3 separate regions of the Homo sapiens genome follow, and regions 2 and 3 are each linked to region 1. The links come from fine-mapping of genetic effects on gene expression. A gene starts in region 1. Each other region holds a variant in brackets. All regions are shown on one strand. Distances are from middle to middle. Region 1 holds the start of GPR65 (G protein-coupled receptor 65). Region 2 overlaps HISLA (HIF1A stabilizing long noncoding RNA). Region 3 overlaps HISLA (HIF1A stabilizing long noncoding RNA).

Evidence for each region. PIP is the estimated chance that this variant, and not a neighbour inherited with it, causes the effect. A credible set is the group of variants that fine-mapping cannot tell apart.
Region 2: its variant is the best candidate, but not a certain one, in a credible set for the expression of GPR65 in whole blood (TOPMed, PIP 0.75).
Region 3: its variant is the best candidate, but not a certain one, in a credible set for the expression of GPR65 in whole blood (INTERVAL, PIP 0.66).

Annotation. Positions count from the first base shown.
Region 1 is chr14:87,999,092-88,009,577 of GRCh38, reverse strand. It overlaps GPR65 (G protein-coupled receptor 65), which reads right to left and starts at 4,443. Exons shown (of 2, transcript NM_003608.4): 1 at 4,356-4,443. RefSeq lists enhancers at 2,999-3,058, 3,859-4,028.
Region 2 is chr14:88,031,377-88,041,862 of GRCh38, reverse strand. All of the region lies in intron 2 of HISLA (HIF1A stabilizing long noncoding RNA), which reads right to left. Among named protein-coding and RNA genes, the nearest start is that of LINC01147, 10 kb to the right of the region's middle. RefSeq lists an enhancer at 4,094-4,595. The variant A/C (reference allele first, on the strand shown) is at 5,546.
Region 3 is chr14:88,045,752-88,056,237 of GRCh38, reverse strand. The region is part of intron 2 of HISLA (HIF1A stabilizing long noncoding RNA); the gene reads right to left. Among named protein-coding and RNA genes, the nearest start is that of LINC01147, 25 kb to the right of the region's middle. The variant C/T (reference allele first, on the strand shown) is at 6,324.

The DNA.
Region 1 (10,486 bases):
CATTTACATGGTGAATACCTTCACAGAAAGCTTTCTAGAAACACTATTCAGGGCACCAGAATCACTCCCTCCCAACTGTTGATGAATCCTGAGCACAAAAAGACCTGCCATCACAAGTCACAAGAATTCTACTAGCAGAGTAAATCATATGGGAAAATATATCATATTTCACTCTTAAACAGGTAACTAAAACTCCTGAAAACTTTTAGCTTTATCAACCTAAAAAACAGGAATAAAATGTGAAAAACAGCCTTTTAAATAAATAGGGAAGCTTCCAAAGGGGGGGAAAATTTGTGATGGAAGAAAGGAGGTGGGAGCTGTTATCAGGGAGGTGAGTGAGCGCCGGAGCTCTGGATGGCCTGAAGACATATGTAGATCTGGAGGAACTCACTAGGGATCAGAGAAACTAGAGACAAAACTTGGGCCTATGCAGGTAAGAAGGGGTCCTTGACCATCCCAAACACATGGGATCCAGAACCTCTGCTGTCAGGGAAAGGGTGAACTAGAAAATAAACAAAATAAAATAAATTCCACAGACATTTGCAGACAGTAGAGAAAAGATGGCAATTTCCCTGCCTCTGCTTGGTTTCTGTGAGGAGTTACAATAAAAAATTCTACCCTAAGTAGTTGTGGCCTGTGGGGTCCTCACTTGGAAACTAGGTCTGGGTCTACATTATTAGTTTGATCCTGCAAACTTCAGGCCAACCTACATGCTCAACTTCATTAGTCATCAGAGGAATTCAAGCTAAAATTAAAATGATATACCACTACACACCCAACACAACAAATGAAATGAAAATAAGACAAAATATCAAGTGTTAGGAAGGAAATAGAACATCTTGACTCATATGCTGTTGAGTAAAAAAACACTAGGCACTTATGCATGCCATATGATCCAGCAATTCCACCTCTAGGTATTTGTTCAACATAAACGCATACATATGTTAACCAAAAGACAGGTACTAGAATTAGAATATTCACAGTAACACTACTTGTAATATCCCTTAACTAGAATGCCCACTAGCAGTATAATAGATGAGTAAATTGGGATATAGTAACACCACTGAAATCTACACCTCAATGAAGATGAATAAATTATTGCTACATGCAATCGCATGGTTGAAGATCACAAATGTAATTCTGAGTGATAAAAAAAAAGACACAAAAGAGTATGTATTATCTGATACAAACCAGGCAAAGTTAATCTATGATGTTAGGAGTCTGGGTAGTGGCTACCTCTGGGGAAAGGCTGAGTACTGTTGGAAGAGGGCATGAGGAGGACTTCTGAGATTTGGCAATGTTCTATCTCTTGGTAGGGGTGGCTGGTTCCATGAGCATGCTCAGTTTGTAGAAATGCATCAAGCTGTACACTTAGGATATGTGCATTTTGCTGCATGTGTATTGTATTGCAATGGAAACATTAAAAAGTGGAATCAAAAGGCTGTGTGAGATGGCATGTAGAGCATCTTGACAAACAAACATCTGTTTTACCCACAGATGGAACATATATGCCTTTTTAAGAAATCTGATCTTATTTCTATCCTCATACATAAAATGTAATTGAGAGAAAACAATAAATAAATAATTTACCTAATTATGAAAATAACTTCACCAAAAATAAAGGTTAACTATATATGAAAAAATAAATTCTAGGCTCCTGGAAGAAGTTGACACAGATCCCCCCTTGAACAAGTCCTCTTTAACTCAGGCCTCAAAGAATCCTACAGATAGAGTTCTAACAAATATGACCTTATTCACACACACACACACACACACACACACACATACACACAGAGAGAATAATAAGCAACTACGTGTCAGATTGAGCAGAAACAACAAAGTAAACCAGATCCACAAAACTTTAGAGATAAAATTTATATATATATATATAAAAAACACAAAATATGTTTAATATGTTTAAAGAAACAAAAGAAGGGATTTAAACACATGAGTAAGGAGGAAGAGATTAAAAAATGACAAGCCATATTTTTAGAAAGATTGAAAAAGACTTTCTAAAAATAAAAATAATAATAATTTAAATTTAAAAATAAACACAGGGAGTAACCAACTGATTAGATCCAGCTGAAGAGAAAATTTGTATATTGCAAGATAGAGATAAAGAAATAACACAAAATTATCAGCATGTTAAGGACATGGGAAAATATAAGAGATATGGAGAAAAGGTGAAAAGGGTGGCATATACATAATTGGAATTCCATAAAGATCGAAAAGAGAGAATGTTGAAAAGGCAATATTCACAAAGATGATGAGCTTTCTAGAACTGATGAAGGAATCTTGAGGATGGATGAAGAATCCTCATGCATCTTCAATCCTCATGAAATCTGCAGATTTATGAAGCTTAGAAAATCCCAAATAGGATTAAAAACACAAAAATGGAAACCTATACTTAGACACATTGCAATAAAATTGCAGTTCACCAAAGACTAAGGAAAAAAGAGCCAGAGAGGAAAGATGGACTACCTATGAAGGATGGAATTTAGACGGACAAAAGACTTCTCAACAGCGATAACAGACAGCAGAAGATTAAAAGTTCCAAATTGCTAAGAAAATATATGTCATCCTATAATTATATACTCAACAGAACTAAATTTCAAGGACCAGAGCAAGAATTAGGACATTTTCAGGTAAACTACCACTCAGAACATTTACATCCAAAATCCCCACTAAAGAAACTTCTAAAGGATATAACTGAAGTAGGAAAAGGACACTAGGGTAATGTCTGCGATGCAGGAAGATTGAATCAGCCCCCGCGGATGGGACTCTGATGCACACACAACACGTCCAACACCAGGCTCATGTGTCTTGGGAAGAACACCTGAACCATGAAAACATCCTCCCCTTAAGACCAGGACCGAGAAAGTCGGGTAATGGGCAGCATGTGCCTCTTCCTCCTTTGTCCGTGTTACTCAATAGATAGTCATCATTTTCTTTAAAAATGGTATGACAGATTAAATGAAAAAATGATTTTTAGAAAGGTTTATAAAGTTTTCAATGGAATACATTTCTCTAGCTGTAAAAGCATTTCCTGCCTTGACTTAACCACAAGACAGGATGGGTTGATGAAGCAGAGGCCCTCTTCTTTGTAGTGACGCAGAGGCAGTACAGGCTTGTGGTTAAGAGCGTGGGCTCTGGAGACAATTCGAATGCCTCTCAACAGCACTCTGGGCCCATTGGTGTTTCTTCACCTCTCTAAGTTCCAGTTTTCACATGTGTAAGTTAGTACCCAGTTTCTAAGATTGTTGTGAGGGTTAAATGAAACGACATATGAAGCAAAGTTCCTAGCACATGGGAGGCATTCACTGTACGTTAGCTGGTAATATTGTTTTAATGACATTGGTAGTCTGCACCAATCTTTGTGCTGTCCCCTACATTTTCTGAAAAGAAATCATCTTTAGTCATCTAGCCACAGCATAGCAGAAAAGCTGGAGGTGCTCAGAGTGTAATTTATATGGTAACACTTCACGTATAATACTAGGCTCTGCAGATAATAGTTGTTCATTTAATTTGGGTGGATCTGAGATTTTAGTGGAATACTGTATATAATTCCTATTACAGTATTCACATATCTTTTCAGATATTATTTTGCCTCCTTTAATCAAATTTTGAGAAAATTGTTTTTAGAACAAGCACTGAGAAATTTTGGTGAGTTTTTAATTTTTTAATTTTTACCAGATGTCAAAAAAGACAATCTACAGTATATTAAAGTATATCTATTCTTGAACAGATCTAAAAATAGTACAAATCATTGATGACGATGACCAAAAGTACAATATTTTCCTACAGTGTTATAGAAAATGCTTGCTTTCATCTATCAGTTTAATAGTTACTTATTAAGACTCTACTATATATTTCAGGCACTGTGGTAGTCACTTATTAACTAATAATTATTACTTGACATTTATTAATACTGGAAATATTCTTTCCTAATATCACATTTTTTTCTGATGGATATAAAAAGTATTTACTGGACCATTGTACAGATGAGGGATTGGTGCCAGATAGCTCTAAAGCCAGGGGCTGGTAGGCTTCTTCCTAATACTGAATGAAGTTTGCCAAAGCACTGTTTCCTGAAAAGAAAATAAAGTATGAACAACCCCCTTTTTCTATATCTATGGTTTTGCCTAATTAGTTCTAAATTTAAAGTTTGGCCCTTTACCACTGCTCAAAGTAGAGGAAACCATGTGTCTTCCTCATTTCTTTCTCTCTTATCATGCTTTGCATTACCACATTTATACAGCCTAAACCAGGAAGAATGTTGCGAACATCACTGACAATTATGCCAAAGCATGTTATCTACTTTAAAATATTATTTTATTTTTTAATCTTATACTTACCCATATTTCTTCCGGTGATGTGTTTGTTGACTGAGGAGCTTGATAAATCTGTGCCTGCATCAAGTCAAGAAGAGAAACCAACACTGCTGAGGGGACAGGAAATTGCACTCATATTTCAGCACAAACCAATGAGGAAGCAGCATCTCAATGAGAAGGGTGTGCGTTATCCAAGTTTGAACAAAAAAAGTCTCTTAAATACTTTTAAAGATGTTTTTATTTATTGTTTACTGTACTGTAATTTTTATAACTCACTTGTCTCATTGCATCTTAATTACAAGTATGTACTGATATTATATTATATGCCCTTTACTTAATGGAATATATGTTAAATATTTTATTTATTTCTTTGTTCATTCATTCATTCATTCATTCATTCACTCATCATGCCAGCAGTGTGCGGGGAGATGTATACGAACTGGCTATCAACCAAAAGCAGCTTTTTTTACCTAGTAAAGGAGAAAGACATGTTTAATAATGATTGTAATGCAATGGCAAAATGAAGAAGTACTTCAAGAGGGGTACAGATAAAATAGAATGAACCATTTGGATGTGTGAGATAGGGGAGGATATTGTAGGTAGATTCAGGGTGATAAAGTTCCTGGGACAAAAACAGAAAAGGGAGAATTGAGGCTGAGGGGTTTAATGATGGATATTGTGCTGCTTAAGGCAGGGGTTAAGGTAGCCAACCTCATACCGTCTTTCTTTTCTTTTTTTTTTTGAGAGACTAATGGGATTAGATATATAGTATTTGATTGTAGAACTATTTTCTCCTTTGATTCTCTCCTCTTGGAAACAGAGATGGCTAAAAACCAGTTGAATTAACTAGCTGAGACAAATAATTTTATGAAACTTGAAAATTTTATTTAAGACTTACATTGTTATTATAAAAACTCTTGTACTTTAGCAAGTTAAAGTTAATGCCAAATCTATAAGTGGTTTAATATGAAGTGAAATTAGCTCCTATAACTTTCTTACTATTGATATATAAAAAAGTCAGAAATATCACTTTTGAATCTTGCCCTCATAAACTTTTATTAGAAATGAAGGGAAAATATTATTTGAAAGAACAGAATTTATTTGGGATGAAAACATTTGACTTAATTTTAAAGATGTAATCAGGACATTTTGAATCTGTGTTTGTTAAAGGACATTAAGGGTTGTTGCTGGTGTTTTTTTTTTGTTGTTTTTTTCTCCCTACCCAGAGATAGAAAAGATTAGCCTGTATATAAGCAAGGCTTTCCATATTGAAGTTGATCAGGGTATATCAGGAATGTAAAGATTTTCAATACTTCCGTTGTAGGTCTTTCTTTGAGAATAATAAAACTAATACCTTACATTTATAAAGCACAGGATAGTTTATAAAGTAATTTAGCATATAGTAAATTATAAATCAATATATTGTTACTGAAATAATAAAAATTAAGTATAAAGTAAAAAATTAACAATAAATGTCTTGAAGTTTTACAAAAATGAAAAGTAACGATTTCAGTTTACTTGTGACTGTAATTCAAAGTTCTCATTTTTGCTTGGTTTCGTACATCTGCTTATCTGTGGTTTCTATACATGATATATCTTTTTTTAAGTTCGGGGTACAAGTGCATTGTTACGTAGGTATTTCATTACTCTGATGATCTCTTACTTTATCTGAATAGACTATACTTCTGCTTTTAGGGAAAGGGTATTTTCATGTCCATATCTAATATTCATGTATTTTGCTTTTCAAAAGAAAAAGATTATCATTAAGAAACATAAGAAACACAAACTTTCACTTCTGATTAAAGAGGAGAAAAAGCTGGAGCTGACCTATGCTAAAACCTTGCCAACTCTACACAATAAGAAATTTACCAGCTTTTAAGAAATTTGCTTCTTAATATGGAAAATATGGCAATACTGTATTTTCAACTATAGGGCTATCTTTTATAATGAACGGTTAGAAATTTTAAATCATTGAGTCACTGTGACATTTTAACAACATAACAATGAGATAAAGACAATTAGTAGTTATTCAGAACACTGCCTTAACGGGGTTGGCATTTCTGACCAGTCAATTATTTGGTTTTCTGTGGTCACAATCTGGGGACCCAACACTGGCCAGTTGGGCTACTCATGGGGTAATGGGGAGGAGATTGTGGATCTACCTGGTTCCAACTTCTCCATTGGGCAGACAGTGCAAGAGTGTGTTCTACTGATGAAGGGGTCCTTTGTGAGGCCACACTATCTGCTAGGTGTAATTTCACTAGCTAAAGCGGCAACTAAATATGGCAGGGTAAGATTTTGAAATAATGCTATATTTTCCCAGCCACATTTCTTTTCACTCTAGCCCTACCCTTACACAATCAGTGAGCCATTTTGCATTTATTGCCTCAAGGAAATTTCTGGCACAAGCGGGGGGGAAAAAAAGAAGACAATGTGAGTTTTGACTTTCAAAAATTCAAGGCCTTGGAAAAGACTGAGGCACAGACACTATGCTTGGGAGAATATGTGCTGAAATAAAGTAAAGCTTCCCAGCCCCCAAAACTGAAAAAGATTGTCCTGCTTGGCGGGGGTTGGGTTTAACGTTGTGAGAGAGGAAGTATGTTCAAGAGTTAGATGTGGTCAGTGCTTGAGAAAGGGGCCCTGCATCCTGATTGCTGTACTCACTTCCAAGCAAGCCCTGAGGTAGGGGTGGGTGACAAACACCCTAGATGAGTTGTGTGATCTGGGGAGGAGAGTGAACCTGTGCCTCATTTCCAAGGAGAGACTCAGGAGTATGTACCTGAGAGACCTCACTGTCATAGTTGGGTATGGTTTGTTTGTCTTTATAAAGCTGGTGTTGATTTGATTCCCAGTGTGGCAGTAGTGGGAAGTGGGGCCCAGTGGGAGACGTTTGGGCAATGGGGGTAGATCCCTCCTTAATGGCTTGGTGCTGTTCTGAGGTAGTAAGCGAGTTCTCTTTCTGGATTAGTTCTCCCAGGAATGGATTAGTTCTCGAGAGAGTGGGCTATTATAAGAGCCTGGATACCTCTCCGGCCCTCTTTGCATGTGTCCACTTTCCTTTGGACTTTCTTTGCCATGCTGTGATGCAGCATGAAATCCCTTGCCAGAAGCTGGGACCACATCCTTGAATTTCTTGGCCTACAGAATCATGAGCTAAATAAACCTCTTTTCTTTATAAATTATCCAGTCTCACGTATTATTTTATAGCAACACAAAACAAACTAAGACACTCATCAAGTCCCTCTGTGCCCGTATAGCACAGGTGGAGTAGAATGAGGGGCACAAAGAAGTGATGGGAAGCCTCAGCCCATCTCACAGCACTTTCAGTGGCCCAGTGTGGCACTTTGTGTCACGGATGAGGGACAACTCAGGTTAATACTACCTGGGCTAACTACCAAAGACCAGAAGGGAAAGGGGGTGTCTCAGGGGATGCCAGCATTGATAGAGGGCAGTTCTGAGAACCAAGGGTCAAGCCACCTTCCAGTCCTGGCAACATGAAAAGTCCCTAAATCTTAGCTGGTGTTATGAACTGAACTGTGTCCTTTCCCAAAATTCATATGCTGAAGCCCTAATCCTCAATACTTCAGAATGTGGCTGCATTTGGATATAGAGCCTTTAAAGAGGTGATTAAATTAAAATAAAGCCCCAAGGATAGGCCCTAATCCAATCTGACTGCTGTCCTTATAGGAAGAGGAAATTTGATAGCCTAGAAGAAACGGAGAAGTTCCTAGGCACATACAACTTACCAAGACTGAAACATGAAAAAAAAAACAGAAAGTCTAAACAGAGTAATAAAAAGTAAGGAAATCTGATTAGTAATAAAAATTCTACCACCGAAGAAAAGCCCAGGAAGTCGTCACTGCTGAATTCTACCAAACATTTAAAGAAGCCATACCAATCCTTCTCAAACTCTTCCAAAATATTTGGAGAAGTGGGAATACTTCTCAATTTATTTTATGAGGCCAGCATTACCTAGATAGCAAAGCCAGACAAGAACACTACAAGATAAAAAGTTACACGCGAATGTCCTGATGAACATAAGATACAGAAATCCTCAACAAAATACTAGCAAACTGAATACAATAGCACATTAACAGGATCTTTCACCATACATCACTTTAACAGAATGAAGGACAGAAACCATTTGATCATCTCAATACATGCATAAAAAGCATTTGACAAAATTTAACATCCTTTCACAAGAACTCTCAACAAATTAGGTGTAGAAGGAATGTACCTCAACATAATAAAGGCCATACACGACAAACCCACAGCTCACATCATATTAAATGGTGAAAAATTGAAAGCTTTCCCTCTAAGATCAGAACAAGACAGAATGTCCACTCTTGCCACTTCTATTTAACATAGTACTGGAAGTCCTAGCCAGAGCAATTAGGCAAGAGAAAGAAATAAAAGATATCCAAATTAAAAAAGAAGTTAAATTGTTTGCAAATGACATAATTTTATATATAAGAAATCATAAAGGCTCTACCAAAAAATCATTAGAACTAATAAACAAATTCAGTAAAGTCACAGGATACAAAATCAACACACATATGAACAGCATTTCTATACACTAACAATGAACTATCCTAAAAGTAAATCAAGGAAACAATGCCATTTATAAGAGCTACAAAAATATGTAGAAATAAATTTAACCAAGGAGATGAAGGACCTGTATGCTGAAAACTATAAAACACTGATGAAAGAAATTGAAGAAGGCACAAATAAATGGAAATATGTCCCATGCTCATGGATTAGAAGAATTACTATTGTCAAAATGTCTAAAATGACAATGTCCATATTGTCAAAATGTCCTACAGATGCAATGCAATTCCTATCAAAATTCCAATGCTATTTTTCACAGAAACAGATAATGCAACCATAAAATTCATATGGAATAAAAAATAACTCTGAATTGCCAAAGCAATCTTGGGCAAAAAGAACAAAGCTGGAGGCATCACACTACTTGACTCCAAAATCTACTACAAAGTTACAGTAATCAAAAGAGTACTGGCATTAAAACAGAAACATAGATCAATGGAGCAGAATAAAAAGTTCAGAAATAAATATACACATTTACAGTTAATTGATTATTTTTGATAAAGGTGCCAAGAACACATGGGGAAAGGCAGTCTCTTCCATAAATGCTGTTGGGACAACTGGATATTCACATCCAGGGGAATGAAATAAGACCTTTATCTCACACCATATGCAAAAATTTACTCAAAATGGGTTAAGACTTAAATGTAAGACCTGAAACTGTAAAACTGGTAGAAGAAATCACAGAAGAAAACTCCATGACATTGGTCTGGGCAATGACGTTTTGGATATGGCCCCCAAAGCACAGGCAACAAAAGTGAAAACAGACAAATGGAATTACATTAAACTAAAAAGCTTCTGCATATCCAAAGAAACAGTCAATGGAGTGAAGAGAAAACCTACACAATGAGAGAAAATATTTGCAAGCCACACATCTCAGGGGTTAATATCTAAAATAAATAAGGAACTCAGCTCAATAGCAAGAAAATAAGTAACCTGATTAAAAATGGGCAAAGGAGCTGAATAGACATTTCTCAGAAGAATACATACAAAAGCCCAACAGGTATATTAAAAAATGCTCAAAATCACTAATCATAAGGGAAATGCAAATTGAAAACATAATGAGATATCACCTCACACTTGTTAGAATGGCTGTGATCAAAAAGAGGAAGATGTTTTTGTCAAGGATGTAGAGGAAAGGGAACCCATGCACTCTGTTGGTGAGAATGTAAATTAGTTTAGCCATTGTGGATAACTGGCAGTTCCTCAAAAAACTAAATGGAACTACCATGTGATTCAGCAGTCTCACTACTGGGTATATTTCTGTTGAAGAGCATTGTGATAGATGTTTCAAAAATATTTTGAGTGGTGAGAACCTCTTGTACCGTCATTTTCTTCATGTCTGAGACCTGGCGCTAGGTGGACTCTAAAATTCTTTTCCTGGCGGGAGTGCAATAAAGTGAGTATTTGCAATACAAGGAAGAGTAGAAATATCACAGGTAAAGCATAGGAGGACAGTACAATTTCTTGGAATTCCTTTATTTGAGCAAATCTATGCTGTAACAATTACCAGCAAAAGGACTACAGGTGGTGAAGGCAGTTTTTACAGTGGA
Region 2 (10,486 bases), 32 kb before region 1:
AAATCCAAAAGTAGATGACAGATCTGTTTCACCAAGTCCTCAGGGACCCCAAGACCTTCCAACTCACTGCCATGAGTACAGTGGAAAAGAATAAACATAAGGATGTATCCCTGTGGTCTAAGTGGTCATCTCTGTACTGAAAAACAGGATGGAAGAACAGATTTAAAAAAAGGAAGAAAGGATACCTTGGAGCTATCTCTTAAAGGCTCTATAGATATTTCAGATTACATCCTCTTGGTCACACTAAGCTACAGGAAATGTTAGGAAATATAATCTACATTCTGGAAGACCAAGTACCCAGATGAAAATTGTATTTGCACAGGATATAGGGAGGGAACAAGTAGTTTTGTCCACAGGCTACTATTGCAGTAATCTAGGTGGGAGGTGATGGTAAGGGGGTCATGAGAAATGGTCAGATTCTGGATATGGTTTGAGGTGGAGGCAACAGGATATGATGATGCACTGGCTGTAGGATGTAAGGAAAAGAGTACAGCTAGAGATCATGAAGGTTCGGGCTTAAATAAATGAGAAATGGAGCTACTTTTATGGAGCAACCTTGAGGGTAAAGATAATCAGGAGTTTGATTTTGAAGAATGTTAATTTCAAGATACTAATGAGACACCCAAGTAGAGATGTCAAGAAGGCAGTTGGATATGCAAGCCCAGAGTTCAACTGAGACGTCTGGCTTAGAGCTAGAAATTTGGGATCCATCTGCATAGATTTGGTATGAAAACCTATAAAATTTGACAAAATCTTCTGGAGAATGAGTGCAGATGGGAAAGAATCAACATAAGGAACTGAGCTTGGGGCACTCCAACATTTAAGGGTTGGGGAGATGAGGAGGAGAGACCAGTAAGGAAAGCAAAGAACCAAGAAAGAATAGTCCATGGAGAAAAAAGTATTTCAAGAAGTGAAGGATACACTGTATCAAATACTACTGACAGGATGACTAAACTGAAGATTAGTAATTGGCCACCGGATTTGGTAAGATGAGGATCACTGGTGATCTTGATGTAAGTTGGTTTAAAAAAATTTTTTTTTGAGACAGAATCTCGCTCTGTTGCCCAGGCTGGAGTGCAGTGGCACGAACACAGCTCATTGAAGCTTTGACCTCTTGGGCTTAGGCGATCCTTCTGCCTCAGCCTTCCCGGTAGCTGGGGTCATAGGTGGAACACAGTGAAATGGTGAGTATGAAAACCTGCCTGGAGTAGGCTCAAAAGAGAAAGAAATTAGAGAAAGGAAGACAGTGAATATAGGCAGTTATTTTCAGGAATATATGTATAAAAGCTAGCAACAAAATAGGACGGTAGTTGCAAGATAATGCAAAGTCAATTTTTGGGGGGTTTTTTGTTGTTGTTTTGAAAGATGGGATATATATTAAGATGTTCTGTGAGTTAAGGAAAGATCCAGCATAGAGGGAAATTTTGATGATGCAGGAGAGGAGAGAATTGTTGGAGTAGGATTCTTAAGTAGATAAGAGGAAATGTGCCCAGTGCACATATGGAGGTTTTGGCTTTAGAAAGGAGCACAGACAATTCACCCAGGAGGGATGGCAAATTACATAGGAACAGATGCAGGTAGGCAGTGGAGGAAGTGTTGGGAACCAACGGAAATTTCTCCCTGATTGCTTCTTTTTTCTTATTTAAGTAGAATTCTAGCTCATCAGCTGAGAAAGAAGAGGAGTGAGGAGGAACTGGACAGTTGTGGAGAGAAGAGAAAGTATGAAATAGCTGTGCATGAGATTAAATGAATGAATGAATGAATTATGGAAATGTAGTGAGATTATTGGGCAGCACTATGGATTTATTTTGCATCAGCAGTCATGAGTTTAAAGTGAAACTAGCCACAGGAAACTTGTGAGTGTGGGCATAGGTAGAGTTGGATGAAACCAGAGCTGGGGTTTTGCCAGGAGAGTGCAACAGGGGAGTCGGGGAAGAGAGATAAAGATAGGAGAAGAGAGGATGGGAGAGAAGAGATTGAGTGTATTTATTTAAAATAGTCATAAGAAGGGACCATGTAATCTAATCTGACCAAGAGTGATGATCAGATTAGACAGTGTAAAGCTCTTAGATTCAATAGATCAACTGTGGACTTCCTTGGAAAAGTTGGCATATTCTGCATAAATAGACATTGTTACTTTTACAGTGATGTGTTAGAGTATTCTGAACTGCAGTTGAAATAAAACCCAAATTCCAGTGGCTTAAAAACAAAAAGTTTTTATAATAGGATTTGGATTGATGTCAGCTCTCCTCCACAGTCACTTAGTGGTCCCTATAGAGCCATTTGGGGATAGCTCTGCCATCCTCAATATGTGGCATCTAGAAGTTATACAAAGCTTTGCCACACCAATCAACCAGTAGAAAGAAAGAACATATTGGGATAAGTGTGAGGTTTGTATGGGCCAAACGTAGAGGTGACATGTGTCACTGCAATCATGTTTCACTGAAGAAAACTTGGCCACTTCACTGCGAGGGAGGCTGAGTAATGCAGTTTAGCTCTGTGCCAGTAAGAAGGGGAGAATGGATTTTTAGTAGGTAGCTAGCAACCTCTATCACAGTTAGCCCCTTTTGCTGCTATCATCCTTTACATAAAACATACGTGCATATTACTCTGGGGAGAAAACCCAAAATTTTGTCCACTTATTGAATTGTCTACTTGTTGATATCAAAGTCGAGGATCTCCAAATGATGCTCTGGCCTCTTCTGAAAGTCCAGATACAGTTCCTTGAAGTTCAGCATCCTTTGAACTAAAAGACCAGTTATCTTTGCTCCATCTGCCTATTCAATACACAAAAGTGGACTGGCTAACCACACTAAAAATGCCTAAAGAATTCCCTGGTCCAGAGCAATAATGGAATCCTGTAGGGTAGGTATTGCAAAGATCCCCAAACCCTAGAAGAAAATGTTTTGATAGACCCTGGGTCTGTCCTCTGCAAGGAACTTTCTTCCTCATTTTCCTCTGTCTCTTGGCTCTGACCTCCTGGAGAATATTTTTGTCCGTTAGCCTCCATGGACCCTTATACGGTGAATATTGAGGAGTATGTTACTAGGAGTTGCACATCTCCCAGAGCCCACTTTCTGCTGTTACATGAGGGTAATTTTACAGATTCAAGCTTGTGGTTTCCTGGGCATTACGGTTTTCTCAAAAACTCGATAGGTATCTGACCTATTTGTTTCCAGTCAGTTTCATGTGCTCGTAAATAACCCCCAAATTCTTTTCTAGACCTGATCTAAGGTTTGTCTTCCTGGAGCATACCATCTATTCCGCCATCATGGAATCCACATTGAAGTCTAAAATAGCCTGGGTGGCAAAGCAACTTTATTGATATTATCTTTGCCACTTGGCTGGATCTCTCTCTCTCTCTCTCTCTCTCTTTTTTTTTGATCTGCAAATCTTATCTTTTCGTATTTGAGGTATAGAACCCAAGAGTTTTTTCAGCCCCAAGAAGCTTTGTATTTTTTTTTCCAGTTCCACTTTGGCTGGCAAACTAACCAATTCTTGCTTGAGTTTATCTGTTTCTTGTAGCACTTGATTAAAAACAACAAATAGCAGTTGACATACACTAATATTCCTACTCTTTTCACCTGCTTTCCCTAAAGCCACAGACTCAATACGTTCTTGGTCTACCTTCCAAATAATCACAGATGATAATTTTTAAAGTTATCCATGGATAACATGAGGCTTTCACTTTCTAGCCACTCATAACCATTTTATTCCTGCCTTCAGTCTGAATGCTAAGCTAATACCTTCCATTTTAGATGTTTGTTATAGTGCTTACTTTTCGGTACTAGTTCTCATATGAAATAAGGAAGATGGCAAACACAGGGACCCAAAACATCCAGTAGCTTACAAAAAATGTTTTCCTTTCTCAAGGGGGAGGTTTAATCAGCAGCAACAGCGATACTGTTTTTCAGGGATTCAGATGTTCTAGTGAGTCTGCCATTTTCTACTCCTGGCTGCCAACATTGCCTCATGGTCATCATCCCAGTCAGCCAGGAAAGATGAGGAGGAGGAGGAGCATGAGTGGGTGGTTTCAGGACCATCTAAACCTCATTTTACAGATAAGAAAACTAAGAATTTGGCTAAGGTCACATAGCAAGAGTTTAGTGTGGTATCTTTGGGACTAAAATTCAGGTCACCTGCCTCCCACCTCATTACAGCATCCATCACACACACTTATATCCAGTCAAGCTACCCTGACCCAGTAGCACACTCCATGTCTAACCTCCTGCTGTGAAATGCCAACTGCTTTTCAGTCTGCATTAAACCATGGAGCCACATCGTGAATGTGCCATTGGAGAAATACAACAGGATGAATTCTTAACTTTCAGGCTCCCTATTGTCCTCATATATATTACTCCAACTCTCCACAGGGAATCTGAGTTCCAAGGGGTGAGTGAAACAAATTCTGCATAGCCATTACCTCATGTTAACAATGGCTTGGTGATAAACATCCATGGATTGCAGGATGCCTCTAGCAGGGACAGCAGCTTGTTTTTCACAGGGCTTGTTCTAGAAATGGACATGGAAAGGGAAAACAACTTACGCTTGTTTGTTTTTGATCGAAAAAGTGGGCAAATTTAAAATGCATCGGTATGTATTCTTATACATTTGTGTGTCCTGGTTATTTCTTGCAAAACATTCTATGTGGCTCCAGTCATTCACACATAGACCGGCAGTAGTGTTTCCCAAAGGGACCCTTAAGGAATTCTGTTTCTTTGAGATATTTCATGAGAGCATGCAGAGAGAGCTGCAGTCTGTCTCTTGCCTCTAGAAACATCACCTTTCTCATTAGCAGATAAAAGGCCTTGGAAGTCCTTTCATTTAGCCCATTTCCCAAACTTCTTTGATCATGGAACCCATGTTGATTTTTTTCATGTACCGTCCTTAGAACTCAGGTTCCATGGGACACTCTTGGGAAGTCCTGGCTTATGAGTATCCTCCAGGAGTTTAACACCCTGGAGGGGGACTTTTGGTCACAATGACTCTCTGTAGAACCTCATAAATGCAGTTCTAGCTGTGAGCCTGTCACCAAGGTGACCACCGACATCACCAAATTCTCTTTTGTCACAATGTGACAGTATCTTTCCACTTTCCCCCTACTCCTGAATGTCTAAAGAACTCTCAATGCATATTAGCCATCACCATGGTTGAGACCCAGACCTCTGCAGAGACAATCTTGATCCTCTGGCTCCTGCTTCACATTGCCCATTCACCCTCAGCACTGAAATCCTTACCTCAAGCGCTGGGAATTCAGGCCATGGAAGATTAGGAGGCTCACAGCAGGTTGCTTTGCCCTTTTTTTCCCTATTCCTTTTTGCATTTTCTTCTGGGTCTCTCAAAGGCCATCTAATTCTTCTCTGTCATATGCATAGATTTTGGGAACTACTTTGTTTCCTAAGCATGCCCCTGAGAGGACTCACCCCTTACCCCCAGCAGCTTATCAAAGTATTTTTGTATTTCTGTCAAACTAGTGGAATGCTGCTCCAAGAAGAATTCTGATTACATTTTTCCATGTCGTTGTTATGGAAGCTGTATCTATATA[A/C]AGTGGGAAGATGCCAATAAGGGTCCTTGCTCCTTGAGTGTAAGCTCCCCTATCTTTAATCTCTCTGTTGGTCTAGAAGTGTGGTAAGCAACCCTGGTTGCACACGACAACCTTTTGAGCAGCCTTCAAAATACAGATATCTGGGCCCCAATTTCCGAGATTCTGATTTAAACGGTGGAGTCCATGCATCTACTTTTTAAGCACCAAGGCAATCCCATTGTGTGCATATCAGAGTACAATATAACTGATTGAGAACATGGAGTCATTGGAAGTAGAAAATGCCATTCACTATCAAATCATCATAAAGATGAAATAACTATTCCACTGATAATACACCTGATCACCCAAGTACCCACTCAGCTATTCTGTTCACCCACAGCTCTTCAGATACAGCTTTTCTTCCAGATGCTCAGAAAAGTGTGATAACATAGTAATTTATTCCTGCTCCTGCCCATTGATCTCCAAGCTTGTGAAAATGGGAAAATAAGGAATGTCTAGGCACTTTACTGATACATGTCCTTGGTATAATGTTACACTTAAAATTTACAGTTGGGGATGGATTTTCAGCCAGCTTCCATGTGCCCAGTCGAGGGCACTAGTGACTGGCTTGCTACTTGTATGCAGTTGGTACAATTTGCTCATCTCAGAGGTGTGGGGAGGCAGAGTCTATCAGAGATTGTTCATGAAGGTAGCTGCAGTAGTACCAAAGTGAGGTGCTGAACAGGAGTGATGGGGTAAAGGCAGCTCAGTAAGACAGGGGCAAGCAGTCCCACATCTTGTCCCTAACTCACTGTTCTGAACTGCCATCCTATCTTCCCACTTTTGCCTCAGGAGCAAGTTATCCTTCAAGATTCAGGACAAATGTCACTTCCTCAGTGAAGCCTTCTCTCCCTCCTTGGTGTCTCCATAATACTCTGCTTAGACTTCACATATATCATGTGTTTTCCTACTAGATTCTGAACTCCCCGAGAGCGGCAACCCATATCTTAACTCTCTTTGCATCAACAGAGCCCAATACAATGCCTGGCACAGAGTAAGCCTCAAATATGTCTATGATATAAATTTTCTAATAAAATGTCTATGGTATCTATTGTCTATCTCAGAGTGAATTTAAGAAATTCAACATCTCTTACAAATCTAGATCATTCACTTAACAGAATGGCATTACCATATTATCAGTATGCACAGACAATCAACCTCAAGCTCTGCTTCGGGGATATATAACAACTCTAACTCTTATCTCACTTGAGAATGGGGGAAAATGATGACTAAATTGAAGGCCACTAAAAAATGGTAGGGAAGAGAACAAGGTACAACATCGTTTTGTTTAATCAGAACCAAGATGAAACCTCATCTGCATAAAGATACTTCAGTGCCTTCTCATCCCCTGAAAATGTTAAGCATTTTCTTAAAAAGAGATTGCTGCGGTTTCTAACATGTGCCCAGGGTTCTGGGAATCAACTAACCCTGTTGCTTCCCTGCTCACCTGTGCTGGAAATCTCAAAGGAGCTCAGGGAATCTGGGCCTTTGCTCACTTGTTTTCAGGAGGCATGGGGCATTCCTATCTGGAGGCTGCTGAGAGTAACTCCTCTTGAAAATTTGCAGCTAGCTAAATCCACTATGCTTTCTTACCAGATGTGATCCTGACACCCAGAGATGCTAAGCCCAAATGCCCTCAGAAGTCAGGCAGGGAAGGAGAATATGTGGAGTAACATCGTCGTGATTGGTAGGAACTGTGGCAAATAGGAAAAACGCATGCTCTGCCTAAAGATATTTAAGTTCAGAAGTTTTTCTGGAAGTTGAGCCTGCCAAACAAAATACATCTCTAGGCCAATTTATTCAGAAGGCCTAAGTTTTCAATTTGCATATGGCCATTTTCCTTTCCTGCATTCCTACCCCATACCTCCATGTAATTTTTTGCCCTTGACCCGAGAGTAACTGGGAGTGAGGTGCAGGCAGAAGATGTGGCACTGGGATATGTTGTAATTGAATGTTATGAGGGCAATGATAATTACACAAAATTTTGAGTGGGATGTTTCTTAACTGCAATGAAAGACTTGGCACAAGAAAACGAGAAGCTCATGACAGCCAACTGCCAAGTAAAGACACCCTTAAAAAGTCAAAGTGTTCTATGGCAACTTTGAAGGAGACTCTTATTTCCTGCAGACTGCTGAAAAGCAGGCCCAGCATCTAGTTTTCAGTGTAGCAGAGCTGCACAGGTGACTCAAGGCATAGCCCCAACAGATCTCATCTGTCAAAGTTATTGCCCTGATGGGAAAAGAGTGGGACCCCTAACTTGTATTAGGAATATTTGGGTATATTATCCTGAGAGTTCTGAACTCCGAGATGACCCTGAACTCCCCAGGATGGCAGAAGCAACTGATTCCAACTTGCCTGAGGGGAACAGTCTCCCCTTTTCTGGAGGCAATGAAATGACACCACTTAAGGCAGGTGCTTTGCAATATGGCACTAGTTCTCTTCCAGATCCAATTCTCATTAGTTTCAGGCCAATGACCAGAGTCAGGTCTCAGCACAGTCTGATCAGGGAAGTACAACCTCTGCCCCAGGAGGAATAGTCTATACTGAAAAGGATTTTCAGGACCTGGAACACATGTGGAAGTAGATCTAGAGAGCATTGGCCTGGAGTGGGAAGACAGATATAAGGCTGCGTAGGGAGCATTTTCAGCAAGGGAGAGCTCATTCATCACTTGGATTTCAATGCTTTGGAAATATCTCAAGATGATTCTGAAAATCTGTTTGGATGGATTCTTTAAGCTTATACAGGATGATGGCCTTCAGTAAATGAGGTAGAGATGCTAGGACTTTCTTGATGTATAGTATTGAAGAAAGGATCAGAAGGATCCTAAAGATGGGGCTGTTAGAATTAATTTATTATGTAACACATGCACACGTATGTTTATTGCGGCATTATTCACGATAGCAAAGACTTGGAACCAACCCAAATGTCCAACAATGATAGACTGGATTAAGAAAATGTGGCACATATACACCATGGAATACTATGCAGCCATAAAAAATGATGAGTTCATGTCCTTTGTAGGGACATGGATGAAATTGGAAATCATCATTCTCAGTAAACTATTGCAAGAACAAAAAACCAAACACCGCATATTCTTACTCATAGGTGGGAATTGAACAATGAGATCACATGGACACAGGAAGGGGAATATCACACTCTGGGGACTGTTGTGGGGTGGGGGAGGGGGGAGGGATAGCATTGGGAGATATACCTAATGCTAGATGACGAGTTAGTGGGTGCAGCGCACCAGCATGTCACATCTATACATATGTAACTAACCTGCACAATGTGCACATGTACCCTAAAACTTAAAAGTATAATAATAATTAAAAAAAAGAATTAATTTATTATGTAACATCTAAAAACATATCACCCGGCTGTGTTCATTGAGGGAACACAGAATATCTTCCATTAACCAAAGAAATAAGGAATGCGGTGGTCAGAGGGTACAGACAATTGTTTAGAAGTTTAATGGAAATTGTCTTTGTAAAAGGACTGAGGGTTGGAGATGCTGCCATTAAATTGGGCTGTATATTATCAGCAGGGATGACAGGATTCCAGAGTGGCAGAGCTTGGGATTCTGATAGTTGAACTATAAGAAACATGGTGGACATAATGTCTATAATGAGCACTAAGGTCAGGCTGTCAATCAAAATGCCCTAATGGGGATCTTTGGTGTTGGCTAATAGACCATGGTGTTCTTAGGTGTGAGATAGCTAGACTGCTGACAAGGATTGCTGACTTGCACTATTTTATTTTAAAAAATGGAGAACTACAGAATAGAAGTGTTAACATCAGTCACCGCAATGAAATCTGTAGTCTTTCTTCCAGTTTCAAAATTTAAGTTATTTTGTAGACCTAGAACCCACTAATTGAAAAGGAGACTGAGTTCCCTTAAGGAATAACATTGCAATGCTATTGAAAAAATATATATAAATATGAAATATTCCTTGTAATCCTTCCCAAAAGGGACCTGTGGCCATTGATAGACTATTGTACACTGGGGAAGGCAGTACGTATATTTGTTTTTGAGCACTGTTAAATATGGGATCCGAGTTTTCCGATGCTAGTGGACTCAAGTCTTCATCATGGAATTCCAGTTAGAGTGGGTATATGGAAGCTAGGTGATAAATGAAATGTTAGCTCAAGTTTATCTCAGTTATTTTTCTTTTTTTTTATTATTATACTTTAAGTTTTAGGGTACATGTGCACAACGTGCAGGTTTGTTACATATGTATACATGTGCCATGTTGGTGTGCTGCACCCATTAACTCATCATTTATCATTAGGTATATCTCCTAATGCTATCCCTCCCCCCTCCCCCCACCCCACAACTGTCCCCGGTGTGTGATGTTCCACTTCCTGTGCCCATGTGTTCTCATTGTTCAATCGCAAGGACAAAAATTCTCAGTTATTTTTCTAGTCTCCAAATACACAGTTATTTTAAGCATCTGGCAGAACCCTCCCATTGTTTCTCCGACTTGTAGATTAAGGGCCATCATGGTAGCAAGGGCTCTGTGGAAACCCCTGAAATTTCTGCAATTCCTTCTCCTCCTACATATACACAAATGCGTGCACACACACACACACCCCTATGTACACATCCATGCCCTATATGGTAAATAAGAAGCAATCTGCATCCTAAAAGGAATTACACAATGTGTAATTCTTTTAATGTGTAAATCTTTATTACACATTAAAGATTTAAAGGATGAAGGTGTGGTGGTCTCATCATATCCCTATTCAGTTGGTTTATGTGTATCCTGAAAAAAACATATGGGTCATTGGAGACAAAATGTGGTACCTTTCATGAAAAAGATCAACATGGTCTTTGGCGTTTTATATGCAGCTACTAATCTGGAAAACACTTTGTTTTTAAGTCAGGGGTAGGCAAACTACAG
Region 3 (10,486 bases), 47 kb before region 1:
GCTTAGTCACATAGTCATCAGGTTATCTAAAGTCAAGATGAAGGTTATCTAAAGTTAAGAGCTGTCAGGCAAAAGCATCAGGAAACCTGTAAAGGAAAACCTGTCAGAGTAACAGCAGATTTCTCAGCAGAAACCCTACAAGCTAGAAGGAATTAGGGTAATATTTTTAGCCTCCTTAAACAAAACAATTATCTGCCACGAATTTTGTATCTAGCAAAACTAAGCTTCATAAATGAAGGAAAGATACAGTGTTTTCCAGACAAACAAATGCTGAGAGATTTGCCCCTATCAAGCCAGCACTACAAGAACTGCTAAAAGGAATTGTAAATCTTGAAACAAATCCTAAAAATACACCAAAATAGAACCTTCTTAAAGGATAAATCTCACAGGACCTATATAACAATAACACAATGAAGAAACAACAACAAGGTATTCAGGCAACAAATAACATGATGAATAGAATAGTACTTCACATCTCAATACTAATGTTGAATGTAAATGGCCTAAATGCTCCCCTTAAAAAATACAGAATGGCAGAATGGATAAGAATTTGCCAACAAAGTTTCTTCTGTCTTCAGGAGACTTACCTAACACATAAGGACTCACATAAACTTAAGGTAAGGGGGTAAAAAAGATATTCCATGCAAATGGACACCAAAAGCAAGCAGGAGTAGCTATTCTTGTATCAGACAAAACAAACTTTAAAGCAACAGCAGTTAACAAAGACAAAGGGGAACATTATATAATGATAAAAGGTCTAGTCTAACAGGAAAATATTACAATCCTAAATATATATGCGCCTAACACTGGAGCTCCCAAATTTCCAAAACAATTATTACTAGGCCTAAGAAAGGAGACAGACAGCAACACAATAATAGTGGGGGACTTCAATACTCCACTAACAGCACTAGATTGGTCATCAAGACATAAAGTCAACAAAGATACAATTGATTTAAACTATACCCTAGGACAAATGTACTTAACAGATAATTACATAACATCCTACCCAACAACTGCAGAATATACATTCTATTCATCAGCACATGGAACATTCTCCAAGATAGACCATATGATAGGCCACAAAACATATCTCAGCAAATATAAGCAAATCAAAATTATATCAAGTGCTCTCTCTGATCACAGTGAAATAATATTGGAAATCAACTTTAAAAGGTACCCTCAAAACCATGCAAATACATGGAAATTAAATAACCTGCTCCTGAATGATCATTGGGTAAACAATAAGATTAAGATGGAAATTAAAGATTATTTGAACTGAACAAGAATAGTTATACAACCTATCAAACCTCGGGGATACAGAAAAAGCAGTGCCAAGAGGAAAGTTCACAGCATTAAATGCCTACATCAAAAAGTCTGAAAGATCACAAACAGACAATCTATGGTCACACCTCATGGAAGTGGAGAAGTAAGAACAATCCAAATCCAAACCCAGCAGAAGAAAAGAAATAACAAAGATCAGAGGAGAACTAAATGAAATTGAAACAAACAAACAAACAAAACACAAAAGATAAATGAAACAAAAAGCTGGTTGTTTGAAAAGATAAATAAAATTGGTAGACCATTAACAAGATTAACCAAAAAAAGAACAGAGGAGTTAAATAAATTAGAAATGAAAAGGGAGATATTACTACTGATACCAGAGCAATACAAAAGATTATTGAAGGCTACTATGAACACCTTTACACACATAAACTAGAAAACTTAGAGGAAATAGATAAATTACTGGAAATATACAACCCTCCTAGATTGAAACAAGAAGATACAGAAACTCTGAACAGACAAATAAGGAGCAGCAAGGTTGAGATGGTAATTAAAAAATTTGCCAACCAAAAAAAAGTTCAGGACCAGACAAAAATCACTGCTGAATTCTATCAGTCATTCAAAGAAGAATTGCTATCAATCCTATAGACACTATTCCACAGGATATAGAAAGAGGGAATCCTCCCTAAATCATTTTACGAAGTCAGCATCACCCTAATACCAAAACCAGGGAAGAACATAACGAAAGAAGAAAACTACAATCCACTATCCCTGATGAACACAGATGCAAAAATCTTCAATAAATTACTAGCTGACTGAATCCAACAGCATATCAAAAAGATAATCCACCATGATGAAGTGTGTTTCACACCAGGGATGCAAGGATGGCTTAACATATGCAAGCCAATAAATGTGGTACACTACATAAACATAATTAAAAACAAAAATCCCATGATCATCTCAATGGATGCAGAAAAACATTTAACAAAGTGCAGCATCCCTTTATGATTAAAACCCTCAGTGAAATTGGCATAGAAGGGAAATACTTTGAGGTAATAAAATCCATCTATGACAAACCCACAGCCAACATCATACTGCATGGAGAAAAGTTGAAAACATTCCCCCTGAGAACTGGAACATGACAAGGATGCCCACTTACACCACTTCTATTAAACATGGTACTTGAAATCCTAGCCGGAGCAATCAGACAAGAGAAAGAAAGAAAGGACATCCATACTGGTAAAGAGGAATTCAAACTGTCACGGTTTGCTGATTATATAATTGCATGTCAAGAAAACCCTAACGACTCATCCAAGAAGCTCCTAGAACTGGTAAAGGAATTCAACAAAGTTTCAGGATACAAAATTAATGCACACAAATCAGTAGCTCTGCTATACACCAATGCGACCAAGCTGAGAATCAAATCAAGAGCTCAACCCCTTTTACAATAGCTGCAAAAAGTGTAAAATCTTAGGAATATACCTAACCAAGGAAGTGAAAGACCTCTACAAGGAAAACTACAAAACACTGCTGAAAGAAATCGTAGACAACACAAACAAAAGGAAACACATCCCATGACCATGAATGGGTAGAATCAATATTGTGAAAATGACCACACTGCCAAAAGCAATCTACAAATTCAATTCAATGCCCATCAAAATATCACCATCGCACTTTGGGAGGCTGAGGCAGGCGGATCAAGATCATCCTGGCTAACACGGTGAAACCCCGTTTCCACTAAAAATACAAAAAAATTAGCCAGGTGTGGTGGCAGGCACCTGTAGTCCCAGCTACTCAGGAGGCTGAGGCAGGAGAATGGCATGAGCCTGGGAGGCAGAGCTTGCAGTGAGCCGAGATCGCGCCACTGCACTCCAGTCTGGCAACAGAGCAAGACTAAGTCTCAAAAAAAAAAAAAAAAAAAAAAAAAAAAAAAAACCCACCATCATTCTTCACAGAACTAGAAAAAACAATCCTAAAATTCATATGGAACCAAAAGACAGCCCTCATAGCCAAGCAAGACTAAGCAAAAAGAACAAATCTGGAGGCATTACATTACCCAACTTCAAACTATACTACAAGGCCATAGTCACCAAAACAGTATGGTACTGGCATAAAAATAGTCACATAGACCAATGGAACAGAATAAGAACTGAGAAATAAAGTCAAATACTTACAGCTGACTGATGTTTGATAAAGGAAACAAAAACATAAAATGGGAAAAGGACACCCTATTCAACAAATGGTGCTGGGATGACTGGCAAGCAACATGTAGAAGAATGAAACTGTATCCTTGTCTCTCACCTTATTCAAAAATCCAAAAATCAACTCAAGATGGATCAAAGACTTAAATCTAAGACCTGAAACCGTAAAAACGCTAGAAGATAACATTGGAAAAATCCTTTTAGACATTGGCTTAGGCAGAGACTTCATAACCAAGAACTCAAAAGCAAATGCAACAAAAACAAAAATAAATGGGACTTAATTAAACTAAAAAGCTTCTGCACAGCAATATAAATAATCAGCAGACTTAACAGAAAACCCACAGAGGGAGAAAATCTTGACAATCTATACATCCAACAAAGGACTAATATGCAGAATCTACAAAGAATTCAAACAAATCAGCAAGAAAAAAACAAACAATCCCATCAAAAAGTGGGCTAAGGACATGAATAGACAGTTCTCAAAATAAGATATATAAATGGGCAACAAGCATATGGAAAAATGCTCAACATCACTAATTATCAGGGAAATGCAAATTAAACTCACAATGTGATACCACCTTACCCCTGAAAGAATGGCCATAATCAAAAAATTAAAAAATAATAGATGGTGGCGTGAATATGGTAAAAAGGGAACACTTCTACACTGTTGGTGGGAATGTAAACTGACACAACCACTATGGAAAACAGTGTGGAGATTCCTTAAAGATCTAAAAGTAGATCTACCATTTGATCCAGCAATTCCACTACTAGGTATCTACCCAGAGGAAAAGAAGTCATTATATGAAAAAGATACTCACACATGCATGTTTCACGCATGTTTCTAGCAACAGAATTGGCAATTGCAAAAATATGAAACCAGCCCAAATGTCCATCAATCAATGAGCAGATACAGAAAATGTGATATATATACACACACACATATATATATGTATGTGTGTGTATATATACACACATACCATGGAATACTTCTCAGCCATAAAAAGCAATTAAATAATGGCATTTGCAGCAACCTGGATGGAATTGCAGACTATTATTTTAGGTGAAGTAACTCAGGAATGGAAAACCAAACATTGTATGTTCTCACTCATAAGTGGGAGCTAAACTATGAGGGACAAAAGACTACACTTTGGGTACAGTGTACACTGCTTGAGTGATGGGTGCACCAAAATCTCAGAAATCACTGCTAAAGAACGTATTTATGTAATCAGGCACCACCTGCTCCTTAAAAAACTATTGAATAAAAAATAAAATTTAAAAAGATAGATAATAACAAATGTTGATGAGGATGTGAAAATAAGAACCCTTAATATGTTGCTGGCAGAAATGTGAAACAATTTGGTGGCTCCTCAAACAGGTAAAGATAGAATTACCTTATGACCCAGTAATTCCGCTCCTAGGTATATACTGATGAGAATTGAAAACACATATTACACAAAACCTTGTACACAAAAAGTTTATTACAGCATTATTCCTAATAGCCAAAAGGTGGAAACAACTGAAATGTTCATCACCTATGAGTGGACAAACAAAATCTGGCATATCCATACAATAGAATGTTATTCAGCTATAAAAATAAATGAAATAGTGATACCTGCTGCAACACATAGGTGAACTTTGAAAACACTGTGCTAAGTAAAAGAAGCCTGCCACAAAATACTACATATATGATTCCATTTATATAAAATATCCAGAATAGGCAAATCTATATAGATGGAATGCAGACTGCCTAGGGCTTGCCTAGGGCTGAAGGCATGTGGAGAATGGGAGGTGACTGCTAAAGGGTATGGGGTTTCTTTTTGGAGTGGTGAAAATTTCAACAATTGATTGTGGTAATGGATGTGCAGCTCTGAGAATATGCTAACAACCATTGAATTGTACTCTTTAAATGGGTGAATTTATGGTATGTGAATTATATCTCAATATAATGATCTATGATCATTGTCATAGATCAGGCTGAATTGAAGATCTTTATGATGAAGACACATTCATTATATGTCCCTTGCCTCTACTTCTTCAAATTTTCATTTTGGTTTTCAACAATCAACCTGGAAACTATTAGTATTTGCATGTAACAGATGGACTAAGGAAATTATAGTATTTAATAGAGTTTACTTCTTGGTTCCTACTAAATTCAGAATCACCTTTGATCACCAAGTTGGCTCAGGGTCACTGGGTGGTGCAGGATGTTTATAATTTTTTACCGTGAGTGTGAATTCTGACTCTGTTTTTGGAGAAGTATACATTTTTGAGCCTGTGTTTTTGACTCATTGTGATGGCTGCCACAGCCTGACAATGAGGCTACTTATCTGTAAATCACAGTGCCAAAAAGTGAGCTCTTTGCATGTCCCCAAGAAAAGCCAATTCTTGGAGCAGTTTATTAAGATGTCACTTTTAGAAGGGCCTTGAATCTTTATTTTCAGAACTCAGTAATACAGTGTCTTTTGTCATTGTACTTTTGTCTACCCTGATTCCAGCCATTGTGGAACTTAGATGTTTGGGTCTACGTAGAAAGAACAATGAGGGAATAATCCTTTCAGTCAATAACATTGGTTAATCATATTTTGAGTCTTGATTCCTCCACATACTAGTTGAGTGATGTTGTGCAAGATTTTAACCTCTCTAATCCGTAGTTCCCTTTTGTGTAAAATGAAAATAATGATAGTATATTCCTCTTAGGGTTATTATAGGAATTAAATGAAATAATGTAAAGGTCTTAACTCAGTTCTCAGCAAATGACAAGCCTCTGAAAAATAGTAGCCATTGTGATGATTGAAAATAATACAGGGCAGGGAGAATCTATCAAATGTACTTTTTATAGCT[C/T]GAAGAGCTGGTAAAATGACTCCATTTTCCTTCTGTAATTGTAGTTAGTAAGAATGTTTTTGTATTACGTGTAATCTTAACTTGGAAGATTTCAGTGGATTATTTCATAAGGTTGAATTTTAATTTTCTAAGAATAATTCCACATTAGCATAAATTATTGATTAAGTAAAACTTTTCTAAGGGTAGAAAATGATAAGAATTTATTTAATAGACACATCCCTGTCTTTTATGTACTTGTTTAAAAATAGTTATTTGTGTCTTGGATATCCATTTCTTCTGTAGACATCCCAACTTACAGTAGACGTTCTCCCTCCCATATCCACTATGGTTGAAACAAAGTCCCTGCCTCTGTTTAAATCACAGAGGAATATTTTGGCATAAGCAGAATCCTATGCTTTATTCTTGCTATTTTGGATTGTGACTCATGCCTTCTTGTTCCTTAAAATTATTGTCACAGGGTCAGATTTCCTGTGAACTTTGCTTGTCTATGTTGAGTTGTAGTTTTCTTTTTAGCTCCTGTGAAGGACAATGTTTCATTACCCTGAAAAGTTTAAATCACACAAATATACAGTCACATCTAGAGAAATACAAGAAGTGATTATAAGACTGTGGTCTTCTAAAAAGAGCAAGCTCTCTGGAATCAGTTAGGTCTGGGTTCCGATCCAGATTCCTCCTTGTCCAGGTTGTGTGGCCAAGGGCAAACCATTTCTCCTCTCTGAGCCTATTCCTACACATGTAAAATAGAGAGATACTACAGTACTACACACACGTGAAACACTCAGAAGATTCTTCCAGTTTATAGAAAAATCTCAACACATGTTGTCTATTATTATGAGGATTACAATTATACTCCTGATTATTGTAATCTGGTAAGGCCATTGAGACAACATTGTACTGCAATAATTCATACAAAGCAATTAGCCCAGTACCTAGCAGAGTAGACAAAAGACAGCTACTAATATAATCAATAATTTACTTATTGGAGGGAAGATGTGGAAAGAGTAAGCCGGTGTGTTAATGTTGCCTCTCTTAGAACTTTGAATAAGCCCAGCCTCAGCTCTCTTTGCGAGAGGATAATGATAATGATGTCACCAACAATGATAACTGTCATTTACCAAGCACTTACTCAAAGCCAGACGTGGTGCTTGGTACATTCTCCATTTGTTCCTCCTAACAAATCTGTGAGATGAATATTAGCATTAACCCCACACCTCAGCATGGATCTCCCCAAAACACATTCTGAGACATACATTCAGGTGCAAGTAGCTTATTTTGGAGGGAATGTCAGGAGAGTACAGCGAGGTACTAGGAAGTGACACAGAGGAGGGAGGAAGCCAAGAAGGAATAAGATAATGACTAAGTACTGCCCTGGGCAACCAAGGCCAAGAGCACAAATTTCCCCAGATGTTATGGTAAGGCAAGGGCATTCCTGCTTCTCTTTGTTGGTATGCAAACCTGTGTGTTCTAGCTACTGAGGACATGGTGCCATTTAATGGTCACTGATTTAGGGAGAATACCACATCTTGGAGGATGGCACCCACTTGGCAGGGTATTATCTCCAATCCAGTGCTTCAGCTGTACATTTAAAGAGCTGTCCCATTGCTCTAAGTGGTGTGGTGTATGATAGGATTAGTGGATTCTGGCTCACGTGCTTACTGCTATATATCATTTGTTGTAAGTAGGTTGGTTGGTGTGAAGTGAAAGCATTTCCCAAACAAAAGCCATCTCATTTTTGAGTCCAGTTAGGGACTCAAATCACCTTATGTGTCCTTATTACCTAATGTCAGACTCCAAAGAAGAATGTCTTCATCAGACTTAAGCAGCACGCAGGGTAGTAGGAAACAATTGCACAGGTGCCTTTGTTGGGAAACAAATATGAATGCAAATGAGAGTACTAAATATTGTGGAAGAGGTGGACAGAGGGTGCCTGGCCAAGCTGGGGGAAGCTGCTTGATGCGGTTGGTAGAGGCTCCCAGAAGACGGGGATGGGGAGGAGTATTAATTGTAAAAGAATGAGTCCTGGCTCTCAAGAATCCAATTAAAATCATTCAAGATTGTTATTGAGTCTAAAGCCAAAAAGTGAAAATTCACACTCCATCCTAGAATTTTGTTGTGGAAAAGGATCATCTGGTCCAACAATACCACTTTACTTAATAAATGAGAAAGATGAGTTTGGTAGGATGGGAGCCACAGTCAAAGTAGAATGTATTTCAGCTGCTTGGGAAAAAGCTGGGGTAGGAGGACTTTGTGTACACGTGGTATCATCAGCTTGAGAGGATTTCTGAGTTGGAGGATGAAGTTGACAGAACAGAGAACTGGGATTGAACAAAGCCCAGCATGGAAGGAGTCTGGATCTAGGCAGAAGAAAGAATGCTGGACACCAAGCATGGCAAAATGCAAATCATTGTCAAAGCTGGTTGCTGTGCACAGGGGCTCATCACACCATTCTCTCTGCTTTGTGCATGTGTGCAACTTTTAATAATAAATAGAAAAGTATGCAGGGCAGGTTAACTGTGGAAGTTTCATATGCTGGTGAGGTTGAGAGCCTTGTGAACATGGATTACTCAGTGAGTCTGAATATGTTGAACTTCTGTTCAAAAACACTACTTGGTGACAATTCAAAAATTAACATAGGGCCAGAAGCAGAGGGAGCTTCAAGTTTAGATGGCCCAGATGGTATATGATTGAAGTGACTCAGGGAAGAACCCCAGAAAATATGTGCCTGGCCCTAGAGCCACCAATCATGGCTGATACAATAAAGAATTCAGCATCCATCTCAACTCCTCTGTAGTTGCCTCCCTGGAAAGCTAGGAACCATGTTTTCCAAGCTTCTTTACCACTTGGTTCAACATGGGACCCAGGTTTGGTCAAGCACTTCCACCTGCACAAATATAGGAGGCAGAAGTGAGCAACAGGACCTGCTGTTGGGTGAGGGGAAGTAGCCTCTTGTGACAATGGCAAATGTGGAGGAATTAGGCTCTTCTGGGATAGCTGCGGGAAAGCTCTTGGTGTCCAGTTCCTAGTATTATGGGAGCCAAAGAACAAGAAGAATAATTCTGCTCAGTGGCGTGGTGTTCAGCCGGATTGCTCTTGGCTACGGTGGTCCTGGATGTGAGCTTTCCTAACTGGGTGTTGTTTTTTTCTGCCCTTCCCAAAGATTGAGTTGCCTCTTAATATCCTCAAACTCCTTTCTGACTAATCAGCAAAGGGATTCTTTTTTTTTTTTTTTTTGCCACTAACAGCCCAGATACAGATGCTGTCCTTGATTCCTATTTCCCCTGCACCCCCAAATCCAATTTATTACTAAGACAGATCTTTTCAATCTGTTCACTTCTCTCCTTCTCCTCTGCTGCTTCCCTGGTTCAGAACCCTACCATGTCCTGTCCACATTCCAGCCACCACATCCCTTCGGCAGCTCTCTGGTGGCTCTCACTGACCCCAGTGTCACCTCCAACCCAATTCATTCTCTACACTGACACTAGAGCCATCTTCATATAGTGTCAATATGCTCATGACACTACCCAGCACAAACTCCCCTCTCATGCATATATATCTAGGCCTTAGCCATGTGGAATTACTTTCTATTACCAGAGTGTGCAGCTATTCCTTTTATCACTAGGGCTCTGTGTATGTTGCTTTTTCCACCTAGGACACTCTTCCTCCCCTTACCAGGCTAGCTTCTATTCATATTTCAGGTCTTAGGTTAAGTGTAATCTCCAGGAGGCATTTCTTGATTTCTCAAGTTCCAATTAGGTGATTCTATAGTATCCCCAAATGTATTGTACTTGCTGTTTATTTATCTGTATCTCCTACTAGCCAAAAAGCCTTATGAGGGCCAGAATCTTGTCTGATTACTTGATAATTATGCCTCCCAAATTGGCACACAGGCTGAAGCATTGTGGGTACTCAGCAAAAAGTAGTTAAATGAAGAATAGTGTCAAATGCAACAGGAAGGTCTAAAGTTAGAGATTGCCCATCATCCATGAGTTTGGCAATCTAGTGGACTCTGATGACCTTACAGGGGCAGTTTCAGTGGAGAAGTGGCAGCAAAAGCTAGCGCCAAGTGGGCAATGAGGAAGTAGAAATGGGAAGTGCATTGGGAATCACACCCCTCCTAACTCTGTTGCTGGCCAAAATATTTCAGTCAGGTCAGCGGGCAGGAG